Regions from separate parts of the Homo sapiens genome. Here regions 1 and 3 are each linked to region 2. The links come from fine-mapping of genetic effects on gene expression. A gene starts in region 2. Each other region holds a variant in brackets. All regions are shown on one strand. Distances are between the middles of the regions.

Evidence for each region. PIP is the estimated chance that this variant, and not a neighbour inherited with it, causes the effect.
Region 1: its variant is the best candidate, but not a certain one, in a credible set for the expression of PTCH1 in whole blood (INTERVAL, PIP 0.65).
Region 3: its variant is the best candidate, but not a certain one, in a credible set for the expression of PTCH1 in T cells (TOPMed, PIP 0.88).

What each region holds. Positions count from the first base shown.
Region 1 is chr9:95,743,239-95,753,918 of GRCh38, forward strand. No RefSeq gene overlaps it. Among named protein-coding and RNA genes, the nearest start is that of ERCC6L2, 130 kb to the right of the region's middle. The variant T/C (reference allele first, on the strand shown) is at 5,618.
Region 2 is chr9:95,506,719-95,517,120 of GRCh38, forward strand. It overlaps PTCH1 (patched 1), which reads right to left and starts at 2,548. Exons shown (of 24, transcript NM_000264.5): 1 at 1,443-2,548. The coding sequence starts at 1,643. RefSeq lists silencers at 1-123, 654-703, 1,484-1,803, 4,078-4,517, 4,738-4,787 and enhancers at 229-862, 2,448-2,997, 3,951-4,714, 4,715-5,476, 5,342-6,314.
Region 3 is chr9:95,756,915-95,767,594 of GRCh38, forward strand. It overlaps LOC105376161 (a long non-coding RNA gene), which reads left to right and starts at 8,018. Exons shown (of 3, transcript XR_930145.4): 1 at 8,018-8,125. RefSeq lists a silencer at 5,702-5,751. The variant C/A (reference allele first, on the strand shown) is at 5,929.

The sequences.
Region 1 (10,680 bases), 240 kb after region 2:
GATTCTACTATAATCTAGATGTATCATTTGTGATAGATGAAGATCCCTTATGGGCGGTAACAGAGAAAGTTAAAAGGATGAGCATTTAAGTAAGTAGGACCTAGTACAAGAACATAATATAATCTAAATCTCAGAAAGAAGCTATGATATTTAAGAATTTAGCAATACATCTTAAGTAAAGAATATATAAAGTTTCTTAACAAATGAGGCAGCATTCCAAATGTCTTTGAAATGGCCTCGTGATATATGGTGAACCCAGATATATGTCGCATGTAGTCCAGTTTTTGCAGTCTCATTCCAAGAAAACACATTCAATTTAAGACACTTTCAAGAATGATAGAAATTTTGCTACAGATTTTCTGAAAGAAATTCATCTTTAGAAAACTTCCTGAAGATCTTCTTTGGAAATATTTCTGTTCCCCAAACTTCAGTACTCACAGTAGCTACCAGCTACCTCTCCTTTCTCTCGCCCACGCAGCTTTCTCATGGCATCCCCACTGACTTTCTCCTTCAAATGCTCTGCTTCTTTCTCCTCTGTGCCACAGTGGACAGCAGAATTGTCCCCTAGGACTTCTGTTTCCATTTGCCCCTATGCCAGACCTCTCTAGGATGGCCAGAGCATCTAGAACCACCTCATCTCCCGAGCATCCCTAGCACCCTCTGGGCAAAAGCACATGAGAGCCGCTAGGAAGCAAATCTGTTTCTCACTTCAACAGAAAACTCATGGAGCATTTTGGGGAATAAAATTCTCCACCTTGTTAACAAATCAGTAAGGAAGGATTATTCAGTAATTGATGGCTGACACTACTGGTTAACAATTTGGGAAAAAAAATATTACATTTCCTTCCCCCTGCCTAAATACATCCCAGATGGTCTGAAGAGTTTTACTTAAAATAAAAACCTAAATGAATTAGAAAAATATCAGTGGATATTCATCTAGTCACATAAAAGTCAAGAAAAAAAATCATAAAGACCTTGGCTATAACTTCATAAAAGTATACAATTCTACATGTCATAAAATGCCACATAAAGTTTTAGAAATGAAAAACTAAAGGAATATTTGCAATAGTTGCAACAGATAAATGTTCAATCTCAATTATTTAAACAGCTCTTACAAATCAATATGAAAAAGACAAACGCTTTAACAGGAAAACGGGCAAAACTGTAAATGGGCAATTCAAAGACAAATTTAAAAAGCTAATAAATATTGAAAAATAAGTGTTCAACCTTTGAAGGCCAGGCATACTCTGCCAGAAGAGGGAGGCAACGAGGTCAGTGGCTTATGGCCTCTGTGATGTGTGATGACAAAATCTTCCTGCCTCCATACATTGGATATATTTTTAGTGACAATCGTCATGATTTCATGGACCTGGGAGTTCTATTTTCTTTTTTGTTGTTGTTGTTTTTGTTTTTTCTGAGGCAGTCTGTCTCTGTCACCCAGGCTGGAGTGCAGTGGTGTGATCTTGGCTCAGTGTAACTTCTGCCTCCCAGGTTCAAGTGACTCAAGTGCCTCAGCCTCCTGAGTAGCTGGGATTACAGGCACCTGCCACCACGTCTGGCTAATTTTTGTATTTTTTAGTAGAGACGGGGTTTTGCCATGTTGGCCAGGCTGGTCTTCAACTCCTGACCTCAGGTGATCCTTCCGCCTCGGCCTCCCAAAGTGCTGGGATTACAGGCATGAGCCACCATGCCTGGCCAGTTCTGCTTTCTTTAAATCACTGTACATTGTATACACTCTTAACGGTTACGAAAATATGAAAATCCTTAAACGATCCAGGTGATTTAACAGAATACCTAAGCAACTTGTAGTTAGCGCTAAGCCCATGAACTTGGTAGACAGCAACTTATTTGGCCTTCAGAGCATCTGGTGTGTGAGTGTGAGTGTTTCTCAATAACTAACGTGATTCTGAGGTTTGCATTTATTTGTTCACCCCTCTAGGTGGACAGCCTGACTGTTATTTCCCTTATATCTCATTGTAGGTGGACTGGAACCATTTCTAAAGAGATCAGGAAGTATCAGGGAATGGGATCTATTCAGTCTTTCGGTTACCTGTAAGTTGAAGCTGAAAGTCAGCCTTGCTATCCATGGAACCTGCATCTACATATCCAGGTACTTTTTGCCTACTAAATCCTCTTCTCATTTCATGGAACTCAGCCTATCCCTGGGCTGCCTTTTGAAGCTTCTATTACTGGCTAACACAAGTGGTAGTCAGCCCAACTTTTGATCAATATCTTAGAATATTTTGCCACTGTTCTCAGTAAATGAAGTGATGTTTTCTCTTTTCATTAGCAATGAAAAGATAATCCATGTTGTTTCTAATAAAATCGATATTGAAGCTACATACGTGAAAAATATTTATAGCAATTTAGGAAATACATCACATGAAAACATTTTCGCTCTGGTTATAAAAAGGTCTTGAATTGACTTAATGAGGCCAAATATGGAAACCATGCCTTGGGCCTTCAAAAACTTTCTCTGGTCTTGAGAAAGCTCCTTGGCTGTAGTTTGAAACAGGCCTGGGGATTAGTCGAGCTTTCCCCAGGGCTCTGGGCATTACAAGCGAGTGCTGGTGGCAGGTGTCTGCACTTCCATGATTATCATGTTCCATCAGATGCTTTTGCTGTCTCACTGGGAATATGAACTCCCTGGCACTTGCCCTTCTCAATGACACCAGTGGCACCTGCAACTTTACTGGAGAGCTTTCTCTACCTACAAAAACATGCCGAGGTCACACTTGGGAAGTGGAAGTGCCAGGCATTTATCATCTCCTCAGCCAATAATAAAGAGGAATTGGAGGATAAATACCCCAACAGCCTCACCTTGGGTAGGACAACTCAGAGGCACATTTGGTACGGTCTCCTAGAGGTCCCCAGCAGGATTGAACCCCATATCCTGAACAGCGATCTGTTGACTGTAGGCGGCCCTCTCCCCATAGTCTTCACTTACCCCCTCTCCTGCTAGTGGTTCCTGAGATTAGTTCACAAATGAGCTTCTTGCACATGAACCTGTGTCTCAAAATCAGCTTCTGGGGGAACCCAACCTACTGCAATGTTGCTTAATAGTTGTTGTTTTTAATTTTATTGACACCATTGTCCATTGCAACCCATGTGATGTCCCTTAGGTTAGTCTGAGTCTCTTGGTCTGTCTAACATACCACTGACATTAGGTTCCATGTCAGCGAGTATACCTAGCCATTTATTATAGGTCCAGGCAGCTACCAGAGCTGAATTAGGTGAATAGGAAAAAGAATACCCAACCCTCACTACTACAACAGGACTATGATATGATCTCACTGAACTCTTGATCCTCTGCCCCAACCCCCCCGAAAAAATCCTGCTCCTCCTAGAGCTTCCCCCATCTGAGTAAACAGCAACCCCCAGCATCCAACTGTACAAGCTACACCCTTGGCCTTCTGCGTGACCCTTTTCTGGCTCTCACATATTTTACTGGACTTATCAGTGAATCCTGATGTCTCTGCCATCAAAATACAGATGCTCCCCAATTTACAATGGGATTATGTCCCAGCAATCCCATCATAAATTGAAAACATCATTAAGTCAAAAAATTATGTATTATACCTAACCTACCAAACATCAGAGCTTAGCCTGGCCTGCCTTAAACATGCTCAGAACACTTAGGTTAGCCTGCAGTTGGGCAGAGTCATCTAACACAAAGCCTTTATTGTTTTTTTTTTTTTTTACAATAAAGTGTCGACTGTCTCATGCAATTTGTTAAGTACTGTACTGGAGGTGGAAAACAAAAGGGCTGTATAGGGCCTGACATCCACAGCTGAAATCACAAAGGGCCTGAAGGATATGGGACACATTGAACTACAGTTAATTGGATGATGGGGATGCTACTGTGACAGGGTCATCCATGTCTGTCTTCTGATGAGCCTCAACAATACCTGGTAGCAGGCCCTGGGGCATCCACACTTGTCCATGGCTTGGCCGGCATGGACTTCTTCAGGAAGATCTCTAGTCTTGGTCAGGTTTAAAATGTAAAATAGCGAGACAGAGTACAAACTGTGAGGGGTAATATCTTTTCATTAAGCGTAGACTTTACTTCATTCATGAAATATTTTACTGAACGGGAGTCATATCTTTCAGTTGAAATGATTTTTCTGCTTTAGTAAATTACATGAGATATTCAACACTTGGTTATAAAGTGATGGTGATCGTGGTTGCGTGGCCGACTGGGAGCTGAGGCCCACTGCTGCACCCAGCGTCTCGAGTGTCATACTGCATATCGCTAGTCCAGGAAAAGATCAGAATTCAAAATGTGTACTGTGATTTCAACTGAATGTGTATCTGTTTTGCACCATTGTAAAGTTAAAAAAAATCATAAATCAAGCCATCGTTAGTCGGGAACCATCTGTATATCCAAAATACAACCACTTTTCATGGCCTCCTCTTCTATTCTTTGGTCCAAGCCAGGATCCTCTCACCTGGACTATTGCAAGAGCCCCCTGTTGATCTCCCTGCTCCCACCCTCATCCCTCTATGGTCTAATCAGTGGTTGGTAAACTTCCTCTGTAAAGAGCCAGATATTTCAGGTTGGTGCAATTATTTTCGCACCAACATAATAGTATGTATTTCAGGCTTTGCTAGCCTTATGGTTTCTGTTGCAGTTACCCAGCTTTGCCCTCACAGCACATAGACAGCCACAGAAAATAAATAAGCAAATGGACATTGAAGTTTGAATTTCACGTCGTTTTCATGTACCACAAAGTATTACTCTGTTTTGACTTCTTATCAACTATTTAAAAATGTAAGAAACACTTTTGGCTGGGTGAGGGGGCTCACTCCTATAATCCCAGCACTTTGAGAGGCTGAGGTGGGTGGACTGCTTGAATCTAGGAGTTCGAGAACAGCCTGGGCAACATAGGGAGACCCATCTCTACAAAAAATACAAAAAAACTAGCCAAGTGTGGTGGTGCACGCCTGTAGCCCCAGCTACTCGGGGGACGCTAAGGTGGGAGGATCACCTAAACCCGGGGAGGAGATTGTGCCACTGTACTCCAGCCTGGGCAACAGAGTGAGACCCTGTCTCAAAAAAACAAACTCCAAAACTCACTTTTCTCTCCAAAACCCACTCTTTTGTTCAGGCTGCACAAAATCAGGCTGAGGGCCAGATTTGGCCCACAGACTGTATTTTGCCTGCATCCGCCGGTCTAATACCTAGAGACAGTCCAGTCCTCCTAACACCTGCAGGACAATGGCATTCCTCCATAACCAACCTTCCCATCGCTGCTCACCTCCCTCAGCTTAGCAAGAAGAGTCCTCCAGGGCTCCTGTTTGCCACTTCCCTGCTCTGCTGGTCTCCACAGCACTTAACACCTCCGACCCTACTGTCTGTTTTACCTGTTTATTGCCAGAGTCCTCACACCCCAAATTAGAATGGAAGTTCCATAAGGCAAGAGATTTTATGCCCCCAAATCCCAGAACAGTGTCTTTAAGCACCCCCTGAAGAACTGTCAAATGAATGAATGAGTGGATGGATGAGTGAGTCCTTCCCATCCTTCTGCGATAGTTGAGCACAAACTGCGGCATGTCTCACTAGAAACACCCTGCAAGTGTTCCATCGAGCTAATTAGCTTTCCATTGTAGTTGAAAC[T/C]TATTAGAAACCTGAAGAAGATTGGCCATTTCCTATTACCTGTTCTTCCAATTTTGACTAGTCACAGCAACAGAGAGAAATAAACATCTTCTCATCATTGGTGGTGTACTTGACTTTCAGAGCAGAATCAATTTTTTTTTCCTGAAATGAAGTTTCACTCTGTCAACCAGGTTGGAAGGCAGTGGCACAATCTCGGCTCACTGCAACCCCTGCCTCCCGGACTCAAGCCATCCTCCCACCACAGCCTCCCAGGTAGCTGGGACTACAGGTTTGCACCACCACTCCTGGCTAATCTTTTTTTAAGAATTTTTTTGTAGATATAGAGTCTCCCTATGTTGCCCAGGCTGGTCTCAAACTCCTGAGCTCAAGCGATCTGCCTGCCTTGGCCACCAAAATGCTGGGATTACAGGTGTGAGCCACTGCACCTAGCTTGGATCTTTTTTTAATATTCTCCTCTGTACAATAATATTATTTTCAAGTAATAATCATTAGTAGTCATCATTTCCTTAGTGTTTAGATCTAAAACAAAAATTTTAAAAGGAAAATACATTTCAACAGAAAGATATGATTCCCATCCAGTAAAATATTTCATGAATGAAGTACAATCTACACTTAATAAAAAGATACTACCCCCCGCAGTTTGTACGCTGTCTCACTGTTTTAAATTTTAAACACAAATAAAAACTGAAAGTGGTCACCTGCAGTGACAGAATTCAAGTCCCTGCAGTTGTAGTTTTTCCTCTCTACGATCACTGTGCTGTCACTCTTTCTTTCAAACCTGCTGCTTACATGCAGGCACGTGCAGCCCTGCAGGCCTTGTGGAATGACCTGCTCTGAAACCACCTCGGTTCTGGGCCCTCCTGAATGCAGCTTGAAACAGATGCCGTTGGCTGAGTCCGCACGTGTTGGAGGTGGGAGTGCTCCAGATTAACCAGATTAACCTCGTGGAGAATAGAATGTTATTGAAGGGTAAGCATGAAAATGTGCTGATTTGAAATCTACAGCTATATTATTAAAGCTCAGACAAAATCGCAGCAATTTTTAAAACCGAGACCAAGAAAAGGTTTTTTGGCCAAGAAGGAAGAGTTCATCACTGGTGTTGTTTAGGTGAAAATAAGAAGCAGACCCTTTAGTGGGTTTTATGGCTGCTTTTTAAAAAATTAATTAATTATTAATATTTTTGAGATAGGGTTTTGTTCTATTGCCCAGGCTGGAATGCATTGGTAAGATGATGGCTCACTGCAGCCTCAAATTCCTGGGCTCAAGTGATCCTCCCACCTCAGCCTCCCGAGTAGCTGGGACTACAGGCGTGTATCACCACACCCAGCTAATTTTTGTATTTTTAGCAGAGATGGGGTCTTCTTATGTTGCCCAGCTTGGTCTCAAACTCCTGGCATCAAGTGTTCCTCCCGCCTTGGCCTCCCAAAGTGCTGACATTACAGGCATGACCCACTGTGCCTGGCCTCATGGTTGCTTTTAATGTCTCTCAAACAATGCACCATTTTGTGCCCTGGGCGGGGCTGCTCCCAAGCCTCACCCTCTATCTGCTAGGGCTGATCATTTCTCCCTGTTTGGGAGAATCTGTCATCCTTCGTAGTCACAGGCAGCTGTCAAATGCACATAACATGGTGAGTTCCCACGAGTCTCAGTTGCAATGGCGCGGCCCCTCCATCCAGCAATTACAGCAAGTTAGAGATGGAAAGGACCAAAGAGGGGCCTGTGTAGAACCTTTTGTCAGAAAAGAAAATTTTATTTATGTGATTAAAAAAATTATAAATTCTTTTGCTGACATTATTTGGTTATGGATAAAGCCTTTTGAGTGAGTGGGCTGGCATTAGGGTCCATTTGGAAGATGGATATGGGAGAGTCCAGAAGTTAAGTGACGTGCCCAAGGCCTCGCAACCCAAGTCTAGCCTTAAACCCTCAAGGACATGTGTAAGGCCTATATTTGCATTTTAAAATTATGTTGAATTCAAGGCCCTTTGTTTACACATCCAGGTTTAGAAACCATTGCTCTTACTGGAACTCTGAGGTGAGGCTTCAAAACCCACAGAGGAGCGGAGGAAACTGTGGTTTCCTGATGAAAGAGGCTGAATTTGCTCACCTTAGGGTGTGCAGGGGCCCACAGAGGCCTCCACAAGGTTCCTACCTGAAGGAAATCTTGGGAGGGCCTCAGTATCCGGGGCTGACCAGTCCTGAAGCCCTGGAGTCTAGTGCCATGGGCTTGTTGGCCAACGTGTTATAGACTCTAAGACCATGTCAACCAAAAGTAGTTCAAACACCTGTATGTCTTTAGTCCAAGGAAGAAAACACAGACTCTAAAGTTGTTCATGGTGGTAACTATGGTCACGTTTGAGTACCTCAGTCAGATGGGCACTTTCTCCTCCTCAGGCTGTGGAAAAGCCTGACCAGTTCTGACCAATGTGTACAAATGTGCTCTGTCCACAACCAAGGCGTGTGCGGGCTCTGCAGTGGTGTCTGTGAGTCGGGATGCTCAGCAGCAGAGGGAGGGGAGGGAGGAGAGGGATAGAGCCTGAGCTGTGGGAGAGAGAGGATGCAGGGACAGAGCCTGAGCTGCCTGATGGAGGGGGAGGGCAGGGATGGAGCCTGAACGCGGGAGGGAGGGAGGGGAAGGATGGAGCCTGAGCTGCAGGAGGGAGGGAGGGGAGGGATGGGGCCTGAGCTGTGGGAGGGAGGGAGGGGAGGGATGGAGCCTGAGCTGTGGAAGGGAGGGAGGGAGGGGAGGGATGGAGTCTGAGCTGCAAGAGGGAGGATGGGAGGGAGGGATGGAGCCTGAGCTGCATGAGGGAGGGAGGGAGGGAGGAGAGGGATGGAGCCTGAGCTGCGGAAGGGAAGGAAGGAGGGGAGGGATGGAGCCTGAGCTGCGGGAGGTAGGGAGGGAGGAAGGGAGGGAGGGGAGGGATGGAGCCTGAGCTGCAGGAGGGAGGGAGGGGAGGGATGGGGCCTGAGCCACAGGAGGGAGGATGGGAGGGAGGGAGGGAGCCTGAGCTGCGGGAGAGAGGGGAGCGATGGAGCCTGAGCTGCGAGAGGGAGGGAGGGGAGGGATGGGGCCTGAGCTGCAGGAGGGAGGGAGAAGAGGGATGCGGGGAGGGAGGGAGCCTGAGCTCCGGGAGGGAGGGAGGGAGGGAGGGCGCAGTGCGCCTTCGCACAGCCAGGTAGCAGGGAAGGGGCCGCATTAAACATTGAAAAATGCGACTAACTTGTTCATCCTGTGCCAAAGACATCACCCCCTTCTCAGATGCGTGGGGCACGTCACGCACGATCTGCCCCCCCTCCCGCTGCCCTCTCAGTGTCCCGTCCTCTTACAGACGGGAGCCTCCCGGCGCGGGTTGGGAGCGAGCAGGGAGAGTGGCGCCAGCGCAGGAGGTCCCCAGGCCGGGTCCTCCTCACACCCAGGCGAGGGGAGCGCAGGAGCGACCTGCGGGGGCCCCGGGAGGCAGAGCGGCGCCTCCGGGGAGAAGGTCCCGCAGAGCTGTGGGGGGGCAGGGGACTGCCCGGGAGGAGCCCAGCGAGGCGGAGACCAGCAGGACCGACCCAGGGAGCTCAGTGGGGGCGGCCAGGTCAGCCCGCGGGGGCTGCCATAGAGGCCTCAAAAGGAGGGCCCTCAGCGGGTGGGGGGGTCAGGCCCTGCCAAGGACTGTCTTCCCGACCTTCAAGCAAGACACCCCGGGGCAGGGACTGCCAGGCGCGGGGGGTCAGGCCAAGTCTAGTGACTCCTTCGTGCCCCTCTCTGGTGTGGCGGAGAAGAAAGAAGGAGGGAAGCAGCCAGAAACAGCGCGGAGCGGGACTGGGTCCCACCTGGAGACCCTCGGAGCTAATTTCCGCTCAGGAGGAGGCAGGGGCAGCGGCTCCTGCCCTGAAATCTTGCTTCGGCCGCTGGGCCACCGCCAGCAAGTCCCTCACCCAGGACAACTGCGAGCATTGAAAGGGAGGATGCACCTGCCGCCCCCAGGCAATGGCTACATAGTAGCCGTTATTATTATTTTGAGTTTGGGATTTAAAAAACCCATTCCATAATTATCCAAATACATACCATCTTTTCAACTCAGTTTTGGATTCAGGGAGTGGGGAATGATTTGTAGTCAGAGAACCTTCGGGAGAGTGCTTTGGAAACAGTCTTGGGCCAGGCCCAGGCCCTGCATTTGTAAAATGGAGATAATATCAGGACCTACCTCCTATATATTTGCTGCGACTAAGGAAAATAATGCAGATTTTAGCACAGTGCCTTTCACATAGAAAGTGCTCAAAAATACTAGCCGCATTATAGCTAATCACAGCATCATCACCATAGTCTTTTAAAAATTTTTCACCGTGAAGTTATTATTTAAAAATCTTTTTCAAATTTTATGATCATTGATTACCATTTCCCCCCCACCCTATGAGATAAATTAATCAGGATTTTATTGGCTGATGAAAAATGTTTACCACCGGTCTATTCTGCGTAGCTTTACTAGACTGTTCTAGTGTTGTCAAACCTCTACTGTCCTATTCGGATACTTCAGGACGTTGTTTTTTAGTTAATGTATATATAGACTCTCAACACCCTGGCTCTTAACTGGGGTTGATTTTACTACCCAGGCAATATCTGGAGACATTTCTGTCACAACTGGAGAGGGGGTTGCTAATGGCATCTTGTAGGTGATGGCCGGGATGATGTTAAATCTAAAACGCACAGTACAGCCCACCACAAGAGAGACTAGCCCAAAATGTCAATAGTGGCGAGATGGAGAAACTGCCCTGACATCTCTTTCTCCTGCGGTCTCTCCTAAAGAAACGCCAAGGGAACCAAGGTCTGATGTCTCTGTGGTCCATTGCATTGGGAACTATTTCTGAGAAAAGCAAGTTGTGGGGACCTGCAAAGCTGTTTTTAGCACAGAACAAAATCACAGAGGACCAAAGCCCTAGAAACCCTGCCTCCTTCCCACTGGGCGTATCCCTCTGGCTTCCGTCTCCTGGCAGGGTTTGTGCAAAGCCGCAGCTAGAGCAACATTTTGTTATAATCAAACCTCCAAAAGAATCCGTGGAGCACTGTGGCCCATCTG
Region 2 (10,402 bases):
GCACACGGACTCGCCCTCGAGACTGCAGCCCCGGCGGATCTGAGCGTCATGGGGGGCTCGGTCATAAAGCCGGGCCGCAGCGTGGGAGCTGCACCTCGGGGACATCAGGGCGCCCCCACCCGCGGGATCCCTGAGCGACTTGGGGCACTGGGGCTGCAATACAGAAGAGGAAGCCGAGGTAGAGAGGAGAGAAACCACTCGACACAGACAATATTCACCCCAGAGCTGAGAAGGGAGGGGCTGCGTAATCCCAGCGATGGAGCCCAAGGTTCAGGAGCCAGCAAACCAGTCCTGCTCTGTCCATCACCCTCGGGGACGGGCGCTAGGGGCGAGCGCTCTTTGGAACAACATATTGCGGGTTCCCCCAACTGGACCCCCGCCGAGAATGGTAGTAAGTGGGGATCCACGTGGTGAGCGCGGCCGCCGGAGTTCACTCCCGACGCATTTCCATAGCGTGGGGAGAGGCTGTGTGAGCTGAATTAGGAAGTGGGGCAGCCAGCTGCAACTTACGACAATATTTGTGATCGGAAGAGGGCAGCCACATGGATCTTTCCCTCCTCTCCCTTCCTTTCTGGTTAAACGTAAAAAACAGCCGAGTGCAAAGGGAAGGGCTCAGGCCGGCGCAGGCTGCTCCCCGGCGCGGCATTTCCCCGGCGCTGGCCGCGGCCCCGGCGGGCCCCCGTCTGGGTGCTCGCCTTCCCTGGATTCCACACATTTCAGCGAGCCTCGTAAACACAATGAACCCGGCAGCTCCGCAGACTCGCACCGCGAATTTAAGGTGGCAATTTGTTTACAACTTTTCCTCCCCCGACCAGGCCCTAAGGAGAGGCGGCTCAAAACCTGGAAAACGGGGGGGATATCTTTTTCCGAGAATAATTTTTTAAGGGAGCAGAGATTTCATGCTCAACAAAACCAAAACTGGCTGCCAAAAAAGGAAACCACCTTTATTTCGGCTCCCTCCCCCCTTCCTCTCTCCGCCTCTCTCCACTCCGCCTCCCCCTCCAAGATGTTAAGAAATGTGGCAGCCGTACAGGAGTTTAGGCTGCAAATAGGGGCAGGGGCGCAGGAGGAAGAAGTTCAGGGCAGGGGGCACGGGGCAGGACAGTGCCGCGGCCGCCCTTGAGGTGGTCCGCCGTGGACGGCTTTCCAGTGCTCCGGAAAAGGCACACCAGGGAGGGCGTGTGTATACACACACACACACGCACACACACACACCTCCACCCCCTGCGGACCTCAGACAGCCCTTTCCTCCCAGGACCAGAGGGAGGGTTTGAATTTTTCAATCCCCATTTGTCTGCTGCTTTTCCTGGAGAGGTGTGAGTGAGTGTGTGTGTGTGTGTGAGAGAGAGAGGAAGAGAGTGTGTGTGTTTGTGTGTGGCGGGGGCGATCCCAAAGAGTTAGAGGAGGGAAGAGAAAGTGGGAGGAGAGAGTCTGAAATGCACCTTGGAAATCTGCTCCAGAGCGAAGGCGGCGTCGCAGTAGCTGGGCCGGTGCAGATAGTCCCGGTCCGGCGCGGCAGCACGGCGCAGCCCCCCCGTCCGTCTGCGCCTCCCGCCTCCAGCCGGCCGTCCCGGGGCACCGATACAGCCGCTGCCGCCGCCGCCGCGGTCCTGGGGCTCGGCGGCGTTACCAGCCGAGGCCATGTTGCCGCCGCCGCCGCCGCCGCCGCGGGGACGGAGGCTTCCCGGGCGGCCCGGCGCGCTGCTGCCGCTGCTGCGGGCTCCTGGCGCGCCTGGGCGCTCGGCTTGCGAGGACGCTGCTGGCCGCAGGCTGCTCGGGCTCGGGCTCCGGTTGACAGACCAGCCGCTGCTGCTGCTCACACGGCGGGCGCTGCTGCCGCTGCGGCCGCGGCCGCTGCCGGGGAGTCAGACCCTGCGCCTTCCATTGCCACATTGCGCGGGGGTCCCGAGGTCTCTGCGGCCGCCGCTGCCCACATCCAGTTCGCGGAAGAGCGAGAGCCGGCGCGCCGAGCGAGCCTGTCCTTCGGGCGCTTCCGCGGCACTCCTTGCGGTCCCCAACTCCCCCTACCCGCCCCCCGCCCCGCGCCGCGACCCCTTCACTGCAGAAAGAGCCAGCGAATCCCCGCTGCTCCCGCCGGCCGCGCTGGCTCTCTCGGCGCCTCCCGGGTCGCCCGAGCGGCCGCGGAGGGCAAGCGCAGAGCCGCCGCCGCCGCGGGGTCCGAGGGTGCCCGGCGGGTCTCAGCGCTGCCGGGCCCGGGCAGCCGCAGCTGCCGCTGCTCCCGCGGTGGCTGCTGCTGGCGGTGGCGGCTCCAGGAGCTGCTGCTCGGGCTGCTCGGGCTCTGGCTGCTGGGTTCGCGGTGGCTGCTCGGTCCCGGACTCTGCTTTCTTGTGCTCCTCGGCAACCCGCTGGACCATTCTGTCCCCGTGCAGCGCGCCTCTCTCGCTCCCGGGACCTGGGGACTCCGCTCTGTGTGTGTGCAGCGGGCAGCGGCCGCAGCAGCTCCTTGATTCAATAGATGAGATGGAAGAAGAAAAAAAAGAACTCTCTCCATTTGGAGAAAGAAGAGGAGGAGGGGAGGGGAGGGGGTGGAGGGGGAGAGAGCGAGCGAAAGAGAAAAAGGCTGGAGCTCCCGCCCCCGGGGCTGTCAGATGGCTTGGGTTTCTGCGACGCGATTGGCTCGCGGAGGGCAGAAATTACTCAGCAAACATGACTATTATTAGCTGCTTAGCAACAGCTCACCAAAGTAGAGAGACCACCCAGGTAGGCAACCCAGTGTGTGCATCCTCGGCTTCGGGGCAGCCTCTGAGAGCGCCAACCTTCTCGCATGCAATACTTCCATTAAGGAATGCTCCCCCTCCTTTCTCTCTTATTCCTTTTCTTTTCAACAGTGTCTTCTTTTTGTGGGATGCCTTTGCGCGCACACACGCGCGCGCACGCACACACACGAACATTTGCCTCGCGGTAGACACGGGGGGAAATGTAATATTTTTTTAAGCGCTTAAACAATTTCTGAAATTCCTCAAAGAAAAGCCTTTCAGAGGCACCTTGGCCTCAAGCTGCAGCAAATACTGGGAGGTCCGGCTCGCATTCCCAGGCCTGCACCAATAATGACAGCGTGCTGGATAGTGCGCCAGTGTGTGCCAGATTTTTTTTTCCTCTTCTCTTTTCTTTTATAACTAAAGGGAAGACTTAGGCTCTTGCAGGGAACAACGCCTCGCATTAAGATAAACAGAATGGAAAGTTAAAGAGGAAAGCAAGGACGTTGGGAAAAGCCATCTTTCTTAAAATCCGTCTGCCCCCCAGCCGCTTTCTCCCCCCAACTTAAAAAAAAAAAAAACACAGTCTTGGTTTGAAGGAGTCAGTGTTCTATAAACGTGGAATCCAGACACCGAAGCAGTCTTGTAGAGGCAGAGGCGTTTTTATTTGAATCTCGAATGTGACATAAGTAAAAGAGAAACAACAGAATCTTTTTTTACAACTTAGAGAAACGGAATTGTTTCCTTGAGAGAGTAAAGTTTTCCTGATTATTTTGGGTTCATTTGTACACCCCTTTTTATTAACCAGATGTTTATATAGTCAGTATTTTTTTTTACAAAACTCGGTATGCATGTTATATTTAATAATAGTATGACGTAGGAGATTATAAATGCCCCGATGCTGGATTCATTGAAAACAAACTGTGCGCGGATCGCGAGGATTCGTCCCGACACCGCGTCCAGTGTCACCAAGGCATCCCGGGGATTCGCTTCCCGCGGAGGGGGAAAACACGCGACCCTTTGAGGTGGATTCTGGAGCCAGACACGTCTACACAACTAGGCTTTTTATTTAAAAAAATTTTTGTTTTCGGAAAGTGGAATGTGTTTTTCTTACGTTTCCAAGTTATTACGTTCCTCCCTGCGGTAGGAACCCGACCCGCAAACCCTTGATTTGCTTCACTTTATTTTTTTTTTTAAACGGGGTTGAACTGCAGAGGGACTGGCAGTAGCGAGAAGTCTAGTGAAGTCGTGAAATGGGGCGGTGTGGCTTTAAGATGCGCACGGTGTATGTTCATTGAAAAAAAAAGAAGAAAGAAAGGAAAGGAAAGAAAGAAACCCAGATGGAGGGAAAGGGGGAGGAGCAGGGAGAAGGCGGAGCTCCGGTGGCCACGTGACCCCGCGCCAGGAGGCCCGGTGCGCGCGCGCGCCCGGCTCCCGGACTCCCCGCGCCCGCGCGGCCGGGGCAGAGTAGGTAGGGAGGCGGATGCGCCGGGCCGGCTCCGGGCCTCCAGCGCGGTCTCCCGAGAGCCCAGGCGAGGCGCGCGCCCAGCCGGCGCGGACGGACGTGCCGGACGCGCCGTAGTACATTCCTGAAGGCGGACCGGCCCCCTTACGCTGCCCAATGCCCGCGCCGCCTCCCCGCGACCGGCCAATGGTCGCGCTCACGAGTCCCTGCCCATTCAGCGGCCCCGCGCTGGCTGCCCGGGCGCGCTGGGGGCTGCGGCGGGGCGCGCCGGCCACCGGGGCGGTCCACGCGGCTCCCGCAGGGGGCCCGTCCGCCGGCTCTCCCCGCCCCCTTCCTTCCTCCCCGGCGGTTTCCCCTCCCCGCTTCCTTCCTTCGGCCTGCGCCTTCTCCTTCCTCCCTCGCCCCGCTCCCTCCCTCAATCTCCCCTCCCCCACCAGCCTGGCCACCTTCCCTCCAGCCTCTCCTCCTCCCCGGCTTCAGGGGGAGGCCCTTCCCCCGACCCCCTAACCCGCAAACCGTATGCGGTGCCGGGGTCAGGGCGGGATGTCCCGAGGAAGAGAGGGAGACGGGGTGGAGGTGTTTGGGGGCGTTCGCGGGATCCGGAGGGGGACCTGAGCACCGGGCCAGCGCGGAAATTCAAAACTCAGACCGCTTAAGGAGCACGTGATTTTGTGAGTGCCTCAGGGAAGGGCTGCGGAAACTCGGAAAGCAGGCGGGCAGCATGCGAGGAAAATGACACTGAGTTGATAAAGAGCTCAGACGGCTCCACACATTGCCAGTTTCATCTTTGAGTACGATCCTGATGTTTATTAGGTTTGATAAATAGCACAAAACAGGAAAAGAGGTTTACTATTCTAGCTTTTCTTACTGAATGGTTATGCCGACACTTCAAGTCGAACCATTGTGTGTTTGCTTCTGGAAATTGCTTTTTAAAAACTGGGGGAGGGGGGTAGTACCCCTAGTTTTGCATGTTAGCCTTTTTATATTTCAAGCTTGCTGGAGGGCAAGGAACCATATAGCCAAAGACACGTTGCTATGTTTGTCTTTTCAAACTTCTCCACCACGTTTTGGCCCAAAACTATTAGTGTTTCGTCTCAATCTTTTACTAGAGGGATTTCAGTATAGCTTGTTTGGAAGAAGGAATTCTGGAAGGAAATGGTAAGCTGTGTGCCCGTAATGGATCCGCCTCACTCTCCGCACGCGGCTGCATGTCCTCTGGTTCCGGCGGCTGCCACATGCACGTCATTTCAGTGGCAAAGCCTCTTCCACTCAGGCCCATATCCCTTAGTTTGACTTAATTCCTAAACGTTTTGAACATTGATCCCCGGAGCTTTCAGTGCCCTGAGCCCCCTCGCCCGCTGTTTGATGGGTTAACTTTTCAGCATCTCAGACAATGGTCCCGGCCTGTAAATTCTACCCGTGGGTTCCAGGACGCACTCCGGAGCCTCGGCTCTAACGAGCGCTATCTTAATCTCCCCACCCCCCACCCGCCGCTTCCCCTGTGGTCTGCTTTTTTCATACTTAGAGATGAATTACTTTGAGGATCTAATTGGCCTTGTTTCTGTAACGTTTTAAGAAAGGGAAGAGGAGCCAGTGTAAAAGCCTGCTCGACTTGGGTGGTCAGGGCTGAGGCTGCCCCCAATTTGCCTCATTGCTGATGCATGCGAGTGCGACATTCCCAGCGATAATGTTGTTCCTAATCAATCTGCCCTTATTTACATTTGTAAGCATTGTCGGCTTTAATATGCATGCCCTGTGCAGGGGACTGCTGTGCCACACCGGGTTTGTTAACTTCAACTAACCACAAGGATTCCACAGATCTGAGATGCAGACTGGGGCAGCCAGACCTGCTAAGGTGTCCTCCGGGAAGACAGTCCCTTTAAATGGCCCTTCTGCCTCTGGCACCCCTTGTGACAGTTACCAAATAAAAATAAGTGAGAACTTGGGGCCTTATCAGCCAGCAGGAGTTGCCAGCCTTTATGAAGCAACAGCTGAGTGTTCCATTTCCCCTTTCCAAGTAAAGTTCATCTCAATGCATAAATTGTCATTTTGGTCTCCCAGTCATGATCCAAGACTTCTCATTGGAGTGTGTAGTTTTCAAAGCAGATGCCTTAAGCTCTCCGGATTCCCTCACATCTCCTCCCTTCTCTGTTCCAATACTACAAATATCCATGGCCACACCACACACATTTCAAAAATGACATCAGATTATCCAAATGATGACAATGAAATAAAACATCTGCCCTTTGTGTTGGGATGTTCCAATGGTAAGCAATTGTGGAAGCCAGACTTGGTGGAGTTATGAAAAACCACAGTGAGATTTAACTTTTCACTGGTTTCTCAGATCAAACCAAATGAGTCTTTAAAATCCAATGTAATTTGGCAAGTTTTGCAGAGTATAAATGAATAAAGGGGTTAATGTATTCCAGTAATTTGACCCTGGGGCCATTTATAATTTTGTCTACTGAGTTTAATACTCTTCCAGAAATACAAGGAATTGCAAACATGATTTTAAGTCCTACAGTATTTTTGTTGAGAGGGTCGGATGGAGAGAGGAATTGGGGATTTGATGCAATATTCTTTTACTGCATGGGGAGCCCAGGATACAGGATGTGAGTGATGGTCAAGGCAGGGCTTCAGCAGTTCCAAGCAGGTACCTTGAATATGAGTTGAGTCGACTCAACTCAAGCCAATGTGCCACCATCCACCACATTTTCTTGGCTCCCTAAGAATGCCTTACTATTTTCTCATTGGCAGCTTTTGTATATTCTTAAAAGGTGATGGTAGAAAATGAGTCTAAAAGGTTTCAGGGAAGTCGGGGACGGGGTGGGGGGAGATTCAGCAGCTACAAAATTTAAAACTACTGGGCTTGACTCCCCTCCCCTACTCCCTTCCACCTTCTGTTTCCTCCCCTTATTTACCCCCTCCCCAGGCTGGAGGAAAGGGAACAGCTCTAGCCAACTTGTCAAAATAATGCTGCTAATTACCCCTGATCTCCTTTAATGGGAAGCTGCTCCTAACTCCACAAAGGAGTAAATGAGGGGTCTACAGCACAAACCCGGGAGCACTGGCATTTTTTGAGCTTACAGTGAGCTGGGGGTGGGGAAAGCGGCAGAGGGGAGTGTCCTGAGAAGGTCCCAGAAATCTCCACATTGATTACTCCAGGTCTAAATACTAGCTTGAAAGGGGAATTAGACTTTATGTATTGCCAAAAGCTATTGGTATTCTCTTGCTAAGCATGTCACCAACTGCTGAATGTTCAGAGCCTACTATGAACTTGAAAGAAAACAGAGCATTGACCCCTGCATTGATCCCTCTCTCTCCAAATATATTCTTACCCACATTGCTTTCCTCTCATGGATAGAGATGTATTCCTACAACACCCAGACTTTGAACATGTTTTGCATCCTTCCCTCTCCTCGCCTCTCCCTGTCTAATATATCTCTATCAAGCTTTGCGTTTGCTAGGAGGCACACCATTCATTTCAGTGATCTCTGCTATTGGGTCCTGCATGAAAAAGAAGCTGAGCAACATGATCCCTTTGACCCACTGCTGGAGCAACAAATTTATCAGAAATATAGGCATGAGAAATGAAAGGGAAGTAAAACAATTCCAGCTTATTGTGTGTCTTTCTTTCATACTGCTAATCCGGTTTACACATCACGCCTACACGTCTCAATAGGGCATTATACACTGTGGCAGAGGCTGGAGAAAATAAAAGGTGTGTGTGTGTGTGTGTGTGTGTGTGAGAGAGAGAGAGGAATGAGGATAAAAACGGGAGACATATTTTAATCCACATTGATTAACCTCATCAGTTTATCTATCTGTAGAAAGTTGAAGATAATTTTGTAAAACAGCCTTTTTCTTTTCAGAAAATAATTCCAAATGGTTCTAAGTTTTGTTCAAATAGCTTCAAAGATTATGACTACTTTATAACCAGAAATTAGATACACCACTCACAGTGAGTTTGAAATGAAGCTAATACCCCAAATTGAGAATGGCGGGGCCTATTGATGTCTACCTTGATTCAACATTTTAATTGAAACAGATCATGGACTCAAAGGCATTTTATAGCCTTGTGGAAGGAAGCTGGGTGACAACTGGAACACACATAAACTCACAATCGAAAGCCCCTTGTTTTACAACTTGGGCACTCCATGCACCTGAGGCAACAATTTATCCGGAGTACCACCCAGAAATTTTAAGTTGCAATAACAAAGGATGACACCATAAAGCATTGTCTTTCTTTGTGGAGGCGATTAATTGCATGCTGAACTACTGTCGCCAATAAACACAGAAATAAATAAAAACCTAAAAGAAATGCACACACACAGAATGCTGAAAAAGGACTATTGTGGTAGTTCAAGACCTCAGTGATCCAATTATCAAATATTTAGAGCCACCCATTGTGGCTCTTTATTATTTATGTCTAGTTCTTTTGTATTTCTCCTCCCCAGGGAGGAAGAAAGGATAAAAAGGGAGGAAGACGGTCTTCTCTCCCAGGTGCAGGAAAACAGGTCTGTGGGTGTCTTCCACAGCCGCCCACCCATATGGTTCTTCTTAGGTGATGGAAACAGATCAGTTTCCCTGAGAGTGTGCTCATCCACACGCTAGCATCATTTTAAACATGAACGTACTAAATACGTGGAGACACAGCGCATGTCACCCAGAGGCACAGTTTCTGGGGGTCTTGGGGTTCAGCGCTGGGCCCGGGCCTGTAAAGTGAGAATCGGTCCGGCCCGCCCCCGGGCTCCCCTGAGGCCGCACTCTGCACTCTAAGCACTGGGCTGGTCGCCCATCTCTGTAAGGGTGGCAGCCACCCAAGCGCCTGAATCGGTGGGCATAAGAGTCACACACACCACCTCTCTTACCCACCGCCCCTTCCAGAACTCCAAAAGCCTCTCTGGCCCTTTTCCCGCAGCATGGGAGGGGAGGTGGGTAAGGTGCGTCTCTTCTAGCCCGGGTGTCCCGCACCCCTAGGCGTGCGTGCGGGCTCGAGAGCGGGTCTGCGGGGCGCGAGCGTGCCCTTCCCTGCGGCTGCGGCTGCTCCCGCGAGCTGGCGGCAGCGGCTTCCGCGCGCGCGCTCTGAGCCCCCTCCCCTCGGCGCTGTCACTCTCCGCACCAGCCCTTCCATCACCAGCTCTGCCTCCGCTGGCGAGTCAGTAGCCACCACCAGGCTGATGAGCGGAAGCCAAGGTGGCGACCCTTTCAGGCGTGAAAATGGGAGCTCCGGCGACCCCCTCCGTGAGAATTCCCCCCGGAGCCGTTCCTCAGCCGGGGCCCGCCGCGGCCAGCCCCCTCCCCGCCACGCGGGGCTGGCCTCGGGGGCGGGGGCCCGGGCGTGCGAGCGAGCGTGGAGGCGCGGGACCCGCGCTCCCGCGCCCAGGCGGCGCAGCCCACCCGGCTCCACGGCCCCGGCGCGCGGCCCGCCCCTCCTGCCCGGCGCTCGGGGCTCGCTCCTCCGTCCGCCGCGCGGGGCGTCCCGCGTCCCCGTGTCCCCGCGCCGCCCGAGGAGCACGGCGCGCGAGGCGAGGTGGCGTCGGCGGCCGCCGCGCTGGCTGCACTCACCATAGCCGGCCGTCAACCCCTGCTCGGAGCGCGGGTGCCGATGGCGCGGACGCTGGGCTTGGATTTCACATCAATTCCTTTTTTTTCCCTGGCCCCCCTTTCCTCGTCCTCCGCTCCTCCGTCTTCTCCCAGTCTTCCCTCGTCTCCCCCTTGCCTTGTCGCTGCGGGTCTCTTTGTCTCCCCTGTCGTCTTTTTCTTCTCCTCCGTTTTCTTCTTCTTCTTCTCCTCCTCCTCCGTCTTTACAAAAGGAACGGAAAGTGTAAAAACCCCGGCGCGCTGGGCCGCCGGAGGCTTTCGGCGGAGTGCAGCGCGGACTCACAATTACAAGCCTGTTTCTATTAAGCAGTTCCATGGCCCTCGGCGTGGGTGGTCTGCCGCGCCATAGGCAGGACCTGTCAGGGTCACGTGACGGATCCGAAAACTTTACCCCTTTACAATAAACTCAAGGAAAGCAAAGTAAACTCGAGGAACGTGCTATCAGCACAGCCCTCCTGGGTAAACAGGCGCTCCCCTCCCCGCCTTCCTGGGAGGCGCCCTGCCCGGCGAGCTCCCGCGAGCCTAGCCACCCTCTCCCCGCCCCCCGCGGCCGTGTTTGCGGGGGGCCGCCGGGCTGGGGGTCTCCGCGCGCTCCCGCGGCTTCTCCACCTTGTGC
Region 3 (10,680 bases), 250 kb after region 2:
AGATTATGCAAGGTCTCAAAGTAGCTAAAAGTCAGAATTTAAAGTTAGTATTTACCGCTTCTATTCTTAAACTCATGCCAGAGCCAAGCTACATCCCATATAGTTTCAGGGGAAAATGCAATCAGAAACCTAGCTATGGCGATTTTTACAGCGTTGAAGTTTTTGCCAAATTTGGGTTCTGAAAGGAATTTCCCTACAGGGCCTTTTGGCAGAGACCTTGCATTTTTTTCAGCTTTCCCCAGGAGTCCTTAGCTGGGATCCTCTATTGTATAATCTGTTTCCTTCAACCATTCCTGCTCTCCTCTTTACTCTGAATCATGGGCACATGACGTAGTATTGGAGGAGAAAGCAGCTCTGAGAGGATATTATGACATGTCTCTCCTTTGACTACATGTTCCTTCCTCCACAGCCAATTGACAGGAGAGAAAGGGACGATCTCTATTCATTTACTGGAGAATTAGCATTTTCTGTCAATGCACCTTGCTCTTTTACCCAAGGAATTTCTGTTCACCAGAGAAAAACCCTAGACAAGGGGTCAATAGTTGGCTTGATGAAACCGCTGGCTCTGTATGAATGATCTTTTTCTCCCATGAGCCCAATCATAAAGGTCAATATGTCCACAGATGTCTGAAACAAATTAAGTTAAGCTGTAAGGAAATAGAGAGACAGAGCCGGGTGCAGTGGCACATGCCTGTAGTCCCTGAATTAGCAGTTTTGCATAAGGGAAATATCTGACCCTCTCTTCATATTGATTTCTAGCTCAGGCGTGCATCCATATAGTAACAGGTAATGAAACCGTAGCGCTTGGTTTCTCTCTTAACAAACCAGGCTAGGCCTGAGTTCTAGCTCCAGCGCTGGCACAAGCTGGCTGTGAGAACTTGGCCAGGTTACTACATTTTTCTGGATCTGTATTTCTTCATCCATAAAATGGAAGGTTTGGTACATAAACCTTAAGGTTCTCTCCTGCTCTAGAATTCACTGTAACAACAGCCCCCACCCCATGAGCCATCCATGAACCTTAGCAGATCTTTAATTTATTTGCTTATTAGAGTCAGGGTCTCGCTCTGTCATCCAGTCGACTTCCCGGGCTCAAGCAATCCTCCCGCCTCAGCCTCCCCAGTAGCTGGAACCACAGGTGAACGCCACCACACCAGGCTAATTTTTAAATTTTTTGTAGAGATGAGGTCCCACTGTGTTGCCCAGACTACTGGGTTTTTTTGTTTTTGTTTTTGTTTTGAGACAGAGTCTCGCTATGTCACCCAAGCTGGAGTGCAGTGGTGTGATCTCAGCTCACTGCAACCTCTGCCTGCTGGGTTCAAGCAGTTCTCCTGCCTCAGCCTCCTGTGTAGCTGGGACTACAGGTGCGTGCCACCACGCCTGGCTAATTTTTTGTATTTTTAGTAGAGACGAGGTTTCACCATGTTAGCCAGGATGGTCTCAATCTCCTGACCTGGTGATCTGCCCCCCTCGGCCTCCTAAAGTGCTGGGGTTACAGGTGTGAGCCACCACGCCCAGCCCAGGCTACTGTTTTTATAGAATATAATTTGCTGTGTGATGATTAAATGTTGACAGGTGTTTAGTTATGTTTTTTCTCTAGAAAAGCATGATGATGCAGCGTTTTTCAAAAAATCTCAAATTTAACTTGAATTATTTTAGTAATCTTACCTACTCTTATAAACAAAAGTGCTCTTTTCTTTTTTTCTTTCCTTTTTCTTTTTCTTTTTTTTTTCTTTTTGAGTCAGGATCTTCCTCTGTCACCCTGGCTGGAGTACAGTGGCACAATCACAGGTCACTGCAGCCTCAACCTCCTGGGCTCATGCAATCCTCCTGCCTTAGCCTCCCAAGTAGCTGGGGCTACAGGCACATGACACCACACTCAGCTAATTTTTTACCCTTGGAGAAATGGGGCCTCCCTATGTTGCCCAGGCTGGTCTCGAACTCCTGGGCTCAAGTGATCCTCTCGCCTTAGCCTCCCAAAGTGCTGGAGTTACAAGCATGAGCCACCACACCCAGACCCAAAGTACTAATTTTAAGGGTACTTTAAAAGTATTTAAGCCCGGGCGTGGTGGCTCATGCTTGTAATCCCAGCACTTTGGAAGGCCGAGGTGGGCAGATCACAAGGTCAGGAGATTGAAACCATCAAGGCTAACACAGTGAAACCCCATCTCTACTAAAAATACAAAAATTAGCCAGGTGTGGTGGCGGGTGCCTGTAGTCCCAGCTATTCAGGAGGCTAAGGCAGGAGAATCGCTTGAACCCAGGAGGCGGAGGTTGCAGCGAGCCGAGATCGCGCCACTGCACTCCAGCCTGGGCGACAGAGCAAGACTCTGACTCAAAAAAAAAAAAAAGTATTTAAGTACTTTAAATGCTTTTTAAAGCAAAAAGTATTCCCAGCATATCACCCGTCCTCTCCACCAGACTCAGCTCTGAATGACTTTTGCACCCACCCCACAGAAGTGAAAATGCGTCGCTGCTGAAATCTATTCAAAGAAATGTGCCTTGTGAACACGCCCAAAGATGGCAGGCAGAGGCATCCTCAAAGCTGACCTCCAGGTCGGAATAGAGGTCGGTCGTCTTCCAAACCGCACCTTGGAGCCAATAGCATTCTTTCTATAAAAAAAAAAAAAAATAAGGCCAATTACTTAATATCCACAACTGGTGTGATAACATTCCTGCCTACCCAAGCACCCATGGATAGAGAGTTAAACAAAACATATACCCAAGAGAAAATGTGGAAAATGCTTTAAATTTTAGGCTTCTATTTTTTCTTATATGGGAAATTTTAAGGAAACGTGTGTGAGACAAACCTCGGTTTGACGTCTCAGGGTAGAGTTTCTCACAGTGTGATTGCAAAACCCAGCAGAATTGTAGGGGAAGAAAGATTTCTTTCCTCATTCATTGCTAGGTTCATGGTTGAGGCACCTATAACAAAAGACAGCTTAACAAGTGAGAAGCATACACATTGACTTCATGTAAGTTTTACCTGACATGAGAGTTTGTGGAAATGAAGACCCAAAGAAAGTGGGAAACCTGCATATTTTTAAGCTTAGGTTTGATGAAGAGTGGTCAGGCGTGCGGAAGTGTGATTGGACAGGGGAGAGCTAGCGGTGCTAGCCTGGGGGGACTTGCAAGGCGTTTGTTCAGGTTCTTCTCTATGTCCCTGCATCTTCTGAGATAAGGATACTCCTCTCCTCTGGGTACAGGGGGAACCTCTCAAATGAGGGTCTTATGACTGGCTTCAGGAGAGAAGAGCAGGAGAAAGTCAGAGAGTGACCTTCTAGGTTGTAGGACCTGTGTCAGGGCAGGAGGGCTTTCCCGCTTCTGCTATTTTCTCAAATGCCAAGGTGCCAGATTTGGGGGTAACATGCCTTGAACCTCATGAGAATCATTTGGGGAGCTTGTTAAAAATGAAGATGCAGGTCGGGCGCGGTGGCTCACGCCTGTAATCCCAGCACTTTGTGAGACTGAGGAGGGTCGATCACGAGGTCAGGAGTTCAAGACTATCCTGGCCAACATGGTGAAACCCCATCTCTACTAAAAATAACAAAAATTAGCCAGGCGTGGTGGCACACACTTGTAATCCCAGCTACTGGGGAGGCTGAGGCAGGAGAATCGCTTGAACCAGGAGGCAGAGTTTGCAGTGAGCTGAGATTGCGCCACTGCACTCCAGCCTGGGTGACACAGCAAGACTCCGTCTCAAAAAAAAAAAAAAAAATGAAGATGCCTGGGTCCACCCTGGACCTATGGAATCAGAATCTCCAGGTTTCATGTTTACCTGACTCTAATGAATAAATAAATAAATAAATAAATAAAAGATCTGCCGAGGTTCATGGTCTGCTAATAGGGCAAGGAGCTATCGTTACAGAGAATTCTAGAGCAAGAAAACCCTTACGGTTTATGTGCCAAACCTGCGTTTTACTGATGAAGAAATGCAGATCCAGAATCACCAGGGAATTTTAGATAAACTTCCTAGCTAATTCTCAGGCATAGTAAACCCTCAGAAACTTGTCCTACAGTTTGTCTGAGCCCTACGGAGGACGGCTCTTCTTTAATCTCCTGGGTTGCTTATTGTCTTAAACATCAAGAATGCTCCCTGACAGCAGAGGAGCAGGCCCGGCAGCACTCAGAACTGAGTGAACACAAGCCAGAGAGTGCCTCGCAGCCCAAGAGCTCTGAGTTGGTTTTTAACTAAGACATTCGTAGTCAGAAAGAGGCCAAGCATGCCATTCTTAATTTAAGATAAAGGTAAGGCCGAGGGATGTGTCTGCATATTTATGACAAGCTCAATACGTGCTAAGCAAAAGACACGTGGCACTATCCAACTCCGTGGGTTTTTTTCCCCCTCTAATGACAGACTTAAACTCAGCCTGAAAGCTGACCTTCGAGTCCCTATTTCATTATTCTAAGCCAGCATTATTGGTTATGGGAAATAATCCTGTTGGCAGAAGGAAATACTTAAGGAGCAGTTTACTTTAGTCTTTGCTAGGCATGTGATGTAGTGTGGGAACGAAAACAAGGGATGTTTCAGCTTTGCCTGATGTCCCCCTGTGAGGTGACTGACTCATGGTTTTAGAAATAAAGACATCTCCTGCATCAAGACCCTAAGTTAAATTCCTAGGTCTCTGTGGCCAGTGACAAAGGGGGAAATTAAGACAGTGAACTGGATTATTTTATTTTATTTTTGAGACAGGGTCTTACTCTTCTGCCCAGCTGGAGTGCAGTGGTGCGATCAGAGCTCACTGCAGCCTTGACCTCTCAGATCCAAGTGATCTTTCTACCTCAGCCTCTTGAGTAGCTGGGACTACGGGTGAACGCCACCACACCTGACTAGTATTCTTATTTTTTATTTTTTATTGTGGAGACGGGGTCTTCCTAAGTCACCTAGGGTGGTCTCGAACTCCTGGGCTCAAGCAATCTGCCCACCTTGGCCTCCCAAAACACTGGGATTACAGGCATGAGCCATCATGCCCGGCCTGGATACTTCTAGACAAAGAGAAATACCAGTGTTATTTCCTCTATAGGGCCCGTGGTTTTGGTGTACAGACTCACCCTATTTTGTCATTATGGATGCAAGATTCATTTCAGAGTATCTCCCTGAATTTGACTAATTGGCCAATTGATTTTTCCTGGTTACCATCCTTGGTTACACACATCACAGTTATCTCCAAAGCTGCTTTTCACAGCAGTTGAGTGTGCATACTGGAGTCTCACTGACTGGATTCAGATCCCAGCTCTGCTACTTATCATCTGGGTGACCTGGCTTGGGTCACCAATCATCCTGGCCTGCCAGGGACTGAGGGATTTTTCTGGATGTGAAACTTTTGGTGCTAAAGCCAAGAAAGACCCAGGTGAACTGAGGCCAGCTGGTCATCCTGGCCTTTGAGCAAGTTACTTTACTGCTCCAAGCTTGAGCTTCCTCACCTGTATTGCGGGTTGCCAGTCATAGTGAGCTACCTTGTGGGGTTGTTGGAGGACTCAGGAGGTGTGGCCCTAAAGCAGTTGGAACTGGGCCTGGCACATGGCACCTGTGTGTTTGTTGTCATTTTTTCATCAGCAGCACTCCATTCTGCCCCCTGACATTACACACGGCATTGGAGGGCTGGTGCCATGTGGTGGCAGAACGCAACCAAAACCAGACCAGACCACAGACACCACTTGTGGATGTTGTGAAGCGTTCATTGGAACCTTCCTTCACTGTGTGGTTGATGGTTGAGATGCTTGCAAAACAAGTATTTGGTATGTCTTGTGTGGTAACAGTTGTGACATCTGGGTCCCGAATAAAGAGTGTACCTCCCGGAAGGTAGGGTGGCCATAGACTCACCTGTGAGCCATGGAAAGGGGGGAGGCCATGCTCATTTTGATGAAGCAGGTAAGATGGTGACCACGCCTGGGCACGGACAGAGATGGGATAGGAGTAGTCCTGTGTGC[C/A]GGGAAGGGTTTGGGGAAGGGGACATCAGACAAGTCAAACAAGGACTTGGACTCACTAGCTGATCAGGGACCTTAAATGTCACTTGCACCTGGGAGTCCCATCACAGGAGGAAAAAGGCCAAGTCTGTTTTCTAAGTTCCTCAAAACTTCATAGGAGAGAAGAAAAATGATGGGAAGAGACATCAGTAACAAAAGGCAGGTAATGGAAATATGAAGCTATAGGGGCCAGAGTTTATAACAAATCTCCTTCATTTGTCATATGCCATCAATCAACACATTTATTGAACACCTACTATGTGCCAGGTGCTGTGTGCCATCTGCACTGGAGCTGTGTCCCGGAACACAACAGACAGTGCCTTCTACCATAGTTGGGCCAGACTTCCATTTCTTCATTCAGCATATGGATATAAAGCACCTACTATGTGCCATGAAGTCTCCCAGGCACCTGCTTTGTGGCATTTGTAAATGAATAAGCATGTACAGGAAAATATCAGGGTTGGCTGCGTGCGGTGGCCCATGCCTTTAATCCCAGCACCTTGGGAGGCTAAAGTAGGTGGATCACCTGAGGTCAGGAGTTCGAGACCAGCCTGGCCAACACGGCGAAACCCCATCTCTACTAAAAATACAAAAATTAGCCGGGTGTGATGGCATGTGCCTGTAATCCCAATTACTTGGGAGGCTGAAGCAGGAGAATTGCTTTAATGCAGGAGGCAGAGGTTGCAGTGAGCCGAGATCGCACCACTGCACTCAGCCTGGGTGACAAAGCAAGACTACATTTCACACAAAAAAATTAATAAAAATAAAAATAAATAAAATATCAGGGTCCTGAGAGAATAAGAAGGCTCCAGCTCTCTGGACACCTGCTCTGGGTCTGGCCTTCCTCTACTTGCTCAATACATCTTCTCCCATTGAAGCCTCACCACAGTCTACCTCCTATTAAACTAAACTAGCTCACATTGCATGAACTAACATATTATGAATAATTTTATCCTCATTTTATAAATGAGGGAGTTGAGGCACTGAGATGAGAGCCTCACCCCGCTCTTCAGCTCTATCCTAGCCCATCTCTTTTGAGGCCTCGGGCAATACCGGGGGGTACTTTAGGTGGTCGCACCTGCAGAAGTCCTGCCGCTTTCTAGTGGGCAGAGGCCAGAGATGCTGCTAAACATCCTACAATGCAAAGGACAGCCCCATAACAGAGAATTCTCCAGCCCCAAATGGACTGAGTGCCAGGTGGAGACACCCTGCTCTCAAATGCCTGGGGAGAGGGCTTGTGGGAGGCCTCTTTGCTCTTCCAGGTTTGGGCTGTGTCCATGGCCATGCAGCTGTCTGGGAACAGCAGGGGCAAAGGCCCCAGCAGGATGAGAATTGGCCTGTGCATGGAGAGCATGCAGGAGAAGGTGACAGAGGGGGAGGGGCGGGGAGAGTGGGGAGATGTGGCTGAGGTCAAGGAGCTGGCATTGACCCTTGAGTGTCATCGGGAGCCACTGGAAGATCAAAAAGTGTGAGATTATAGATGGCTTTTTATTATTATTTTGCTTATTTCTGTTTTATGACTGCTGTGGGCTGAATTATGTCCCCTGCAAAGCTCACGTGTTGAAATCCTAACCCCCAGTACCTCAGAATATGACTAGATTTGGAGATAGGGTCTTTACAAGATAATTAAGTGGAAGTGAGGTAATTAGGGTGGACCCTCCTAATCCACTATGACTAGTGTCCTTATAAAAAGAAATGAGGACACACACACGTTTGCACACAGAGAAGACTCTATGAAGACACAGGGAGGAAAGGACGGCCATCTATAAGCCGTGGAGAGAGGCCTCAAGAGCAAACAGCCCCTCCCACACTGTCATCTCAGATTCCTGTCCTCTAGAATTGTAAGAAAATACATCTCTGCTGTCTCAGCCATTCAGTCTGTGGGACTTTGTTATGGCAGCCCTGGCAAACTCATACAATGGCTGTTCTCCAGGATAGAAATATGTGTACACAGCCGTATAGTTACAGAACCCACCCGCCCCCTCAACCCCCCCCCCGCCGAAGAAAAACAGTAAAAATGCTTTAAAAGGATGAGGCAAAGGAGGCACCGTCAACACCCTGGAGACTCCATGCAGAAATGAAAGCTCTGTCTAAAAAGTAGCTGTAAGGATGTGAGGAGAAATCATTTTCCAGAAACAAGGATCCCCCAAGAGGAATACAGGTAGGACATTTCAGTGTCTCCGGCCTGACAAGTCCAGACACGCACACATCTCACCGTGAAGGCGGACAGTGCTCAGCACACCCAGCCTTCAGAGGATTTAGTCCGGAGAGAAGCACGCAGGGCTGCGGTGGATGCGTTCGTAGCGTAGCCACTACCTGTCTCCTTCTGATGAGTTTTGAAACTGCTTTGGAAAAGGCAGTAGAGTTTACAAAGGGCATTCAAGGTTACAAGAGGGGTGGCATCATAGACTGAGAAAGAAAGAGAAAGGACGAGGAGTAAGGAAGGGAGGAAGGGAGGGAGGGAGGGAGGGAAATAAACAACTCAAACGTTTAGCAGACAGTTTCAAATGGCCACTATGGGTGGATGTCAAAATGAGAAGGGGAGTTGTGAAGAAAATATATAATAAAACATGCACAATGGGCTAAGGAGGAGGGGCCAAGGAAGCCTGTGTTAGCCCAGGTTACTTTGCACTTGGATGTATTTAGAGTGCTGTTGGTTTGCACACAGCAGACATACTGTGCAATTGTTCTAAATATCCCCTTATGAATGGAATATGACACAGACCACAGCCATCCCCCCAAACTGTGTCCCATTAATTGTGGAATTGTGGAATTGCCTTGCTTGGATCTCAGAAGGAAAGCTCAGTTGTATCTTTTCTTTGTCATGCAATCTGACCTGCAGAGACACGACTGGAGTGAGGCTGTTAGAATTTTCTTTAATTTAGAATTTTCCACCATCATCACTTTATCTGACAGCTTGTTAGAAACCTAGAAAACATTCCCTCAGCCAGGCGCGGTGGCTCAGACCAGTAATCCCAGCACTTTGGGAGGCTGAGGCGGGCGATGACATGAGGCCAGGAGTTCGAGACCAGCCTGGCCAACATGGTGAAAGCCTGTCTCTACTAAAAATATAGAAATTAGCCAGGTGTGGTGGTGTGTGCCTATAGTCCCAGCTACTCAGGAGGCTGAGGCAGGAGAATCGCTTGAACCCGGGAGGCAGAGGTTGCAGTAAGCTGAGATTGCCTGTCTCAAAAAAAGAAAAAAAAAGGAACCATTCCCTTTCAGCAAATGCCTCAGTAGCAGCTGCCAGTGACTGTTTCCACTGACCCTCCCTGCCAGGGCTCCCCTCTCAATCTGATAACTGCTGCCTATTCCAAATTCCCTGTGGTGAAAACTCCCTCTCCCCAAATGTCTCAGAGGCTGTGGTCGGTGTTGAGTCTGGCTGGGCCTAGAAGGTTGAAGTAGAATTAAAACCATCTGAGTAAGTGATCGTGGATTGATCATGTGGTCCTAGCCGAGATGCAGTCAATTTCTGCAAGAGGGTGGGTGACGGATGCCTCCTCAGAGAAACCTGGGAGGGCTGAGGACAGGGTGAGAAGGAAAGAGTGCCCTAGCATTCAGAACAAAAGGAAAGGTGGTGAGGGCAGGATGTGCCGTCCCTTAGAAAATGGAGCGAGAGGAGCTATGGAAATTGTGGTAGGCTGACTTTGAAGATGGTCCACAATTCCCACCTTCTGGTAGATGCACCCTGATGTCATCCTTGACCTGGTATGGGCTGGACCTAGTGACTTGCTTCTGTGATTAAATTACAAATGACTGTGACTTCCACCTTGCTAGCACATACTCTTTCTCTCTTGTGGGCTTTGATGAAGCAAGCTGCCACACTGGAGAGGTCCACATGGCAGGGGACTGAGAGTGTTTTCTGGCCAACAGCTGGCAGGGAACTGGGTCCTGCCACCACTGGAGGCCAACCACGGAGCAAGCCTGGAAGTGGATCCTGCCCCAGCTGAGTCTCTATGACAGCCATGCGGGACGGGACACTGGGATCCCACACCATGATTGCAGCCTATGAGTGACCCTGAGGGAGGGGGTCCTCCAAGCATACCCAGATTCCTGACCCCCAGGAACTATGAGTCCAAAACATGGCATTCTTTTAAGCTACTAAATTTTGAAGTAATTTACTATGCAGTGATAGATAACAGTACAAACCCCAGCTGAGACTTGCATCCTCTCACCCCAAGCCCTGAGTCAGAGGCCAGCTACTGCCGTGGCAGTGTGAGCCCTCATTTGCAACACAAGAGGGTGGACCCCAGTCCCTTCCAGGTCTAGAACTCTACATACCTGCTGGCATTACCACGTAATGAGCTGTTCTCCTGCACAAAAGCCTTACCCTTTCTTGCCACTGTAGGCCCAGGCTCGGAGCTTCCAGGTATGCCCTAATGCCCAAAGGTGGGCACTGAAACCCTTTGTAAAATGAGATAAGCCGTTCTTAAATCGCCTAACATTTGTAGACTAGGAGTACCTCTGAAACTATGAAAGCAGAAGCATTTCTTGAATTCTTTTTTTTTTTTGAGAAGGAGTTTTGCTCTTTTTGACTAGGCTAGAGTGCAATGGTGTGAACTTGGCTCACTGCCACCTCTGCTTCCCGGGTTCAAGTGATTCTCGTGCCTCAGCCTCCTGAGTAGCTGGGATTACCGGCACCTGCCACCATGCCCAGCTAATTTTGTTTTTTTTTTTTTTTTCAGTAGAGACAGAGTTTCACCATGTTGTCCAGGC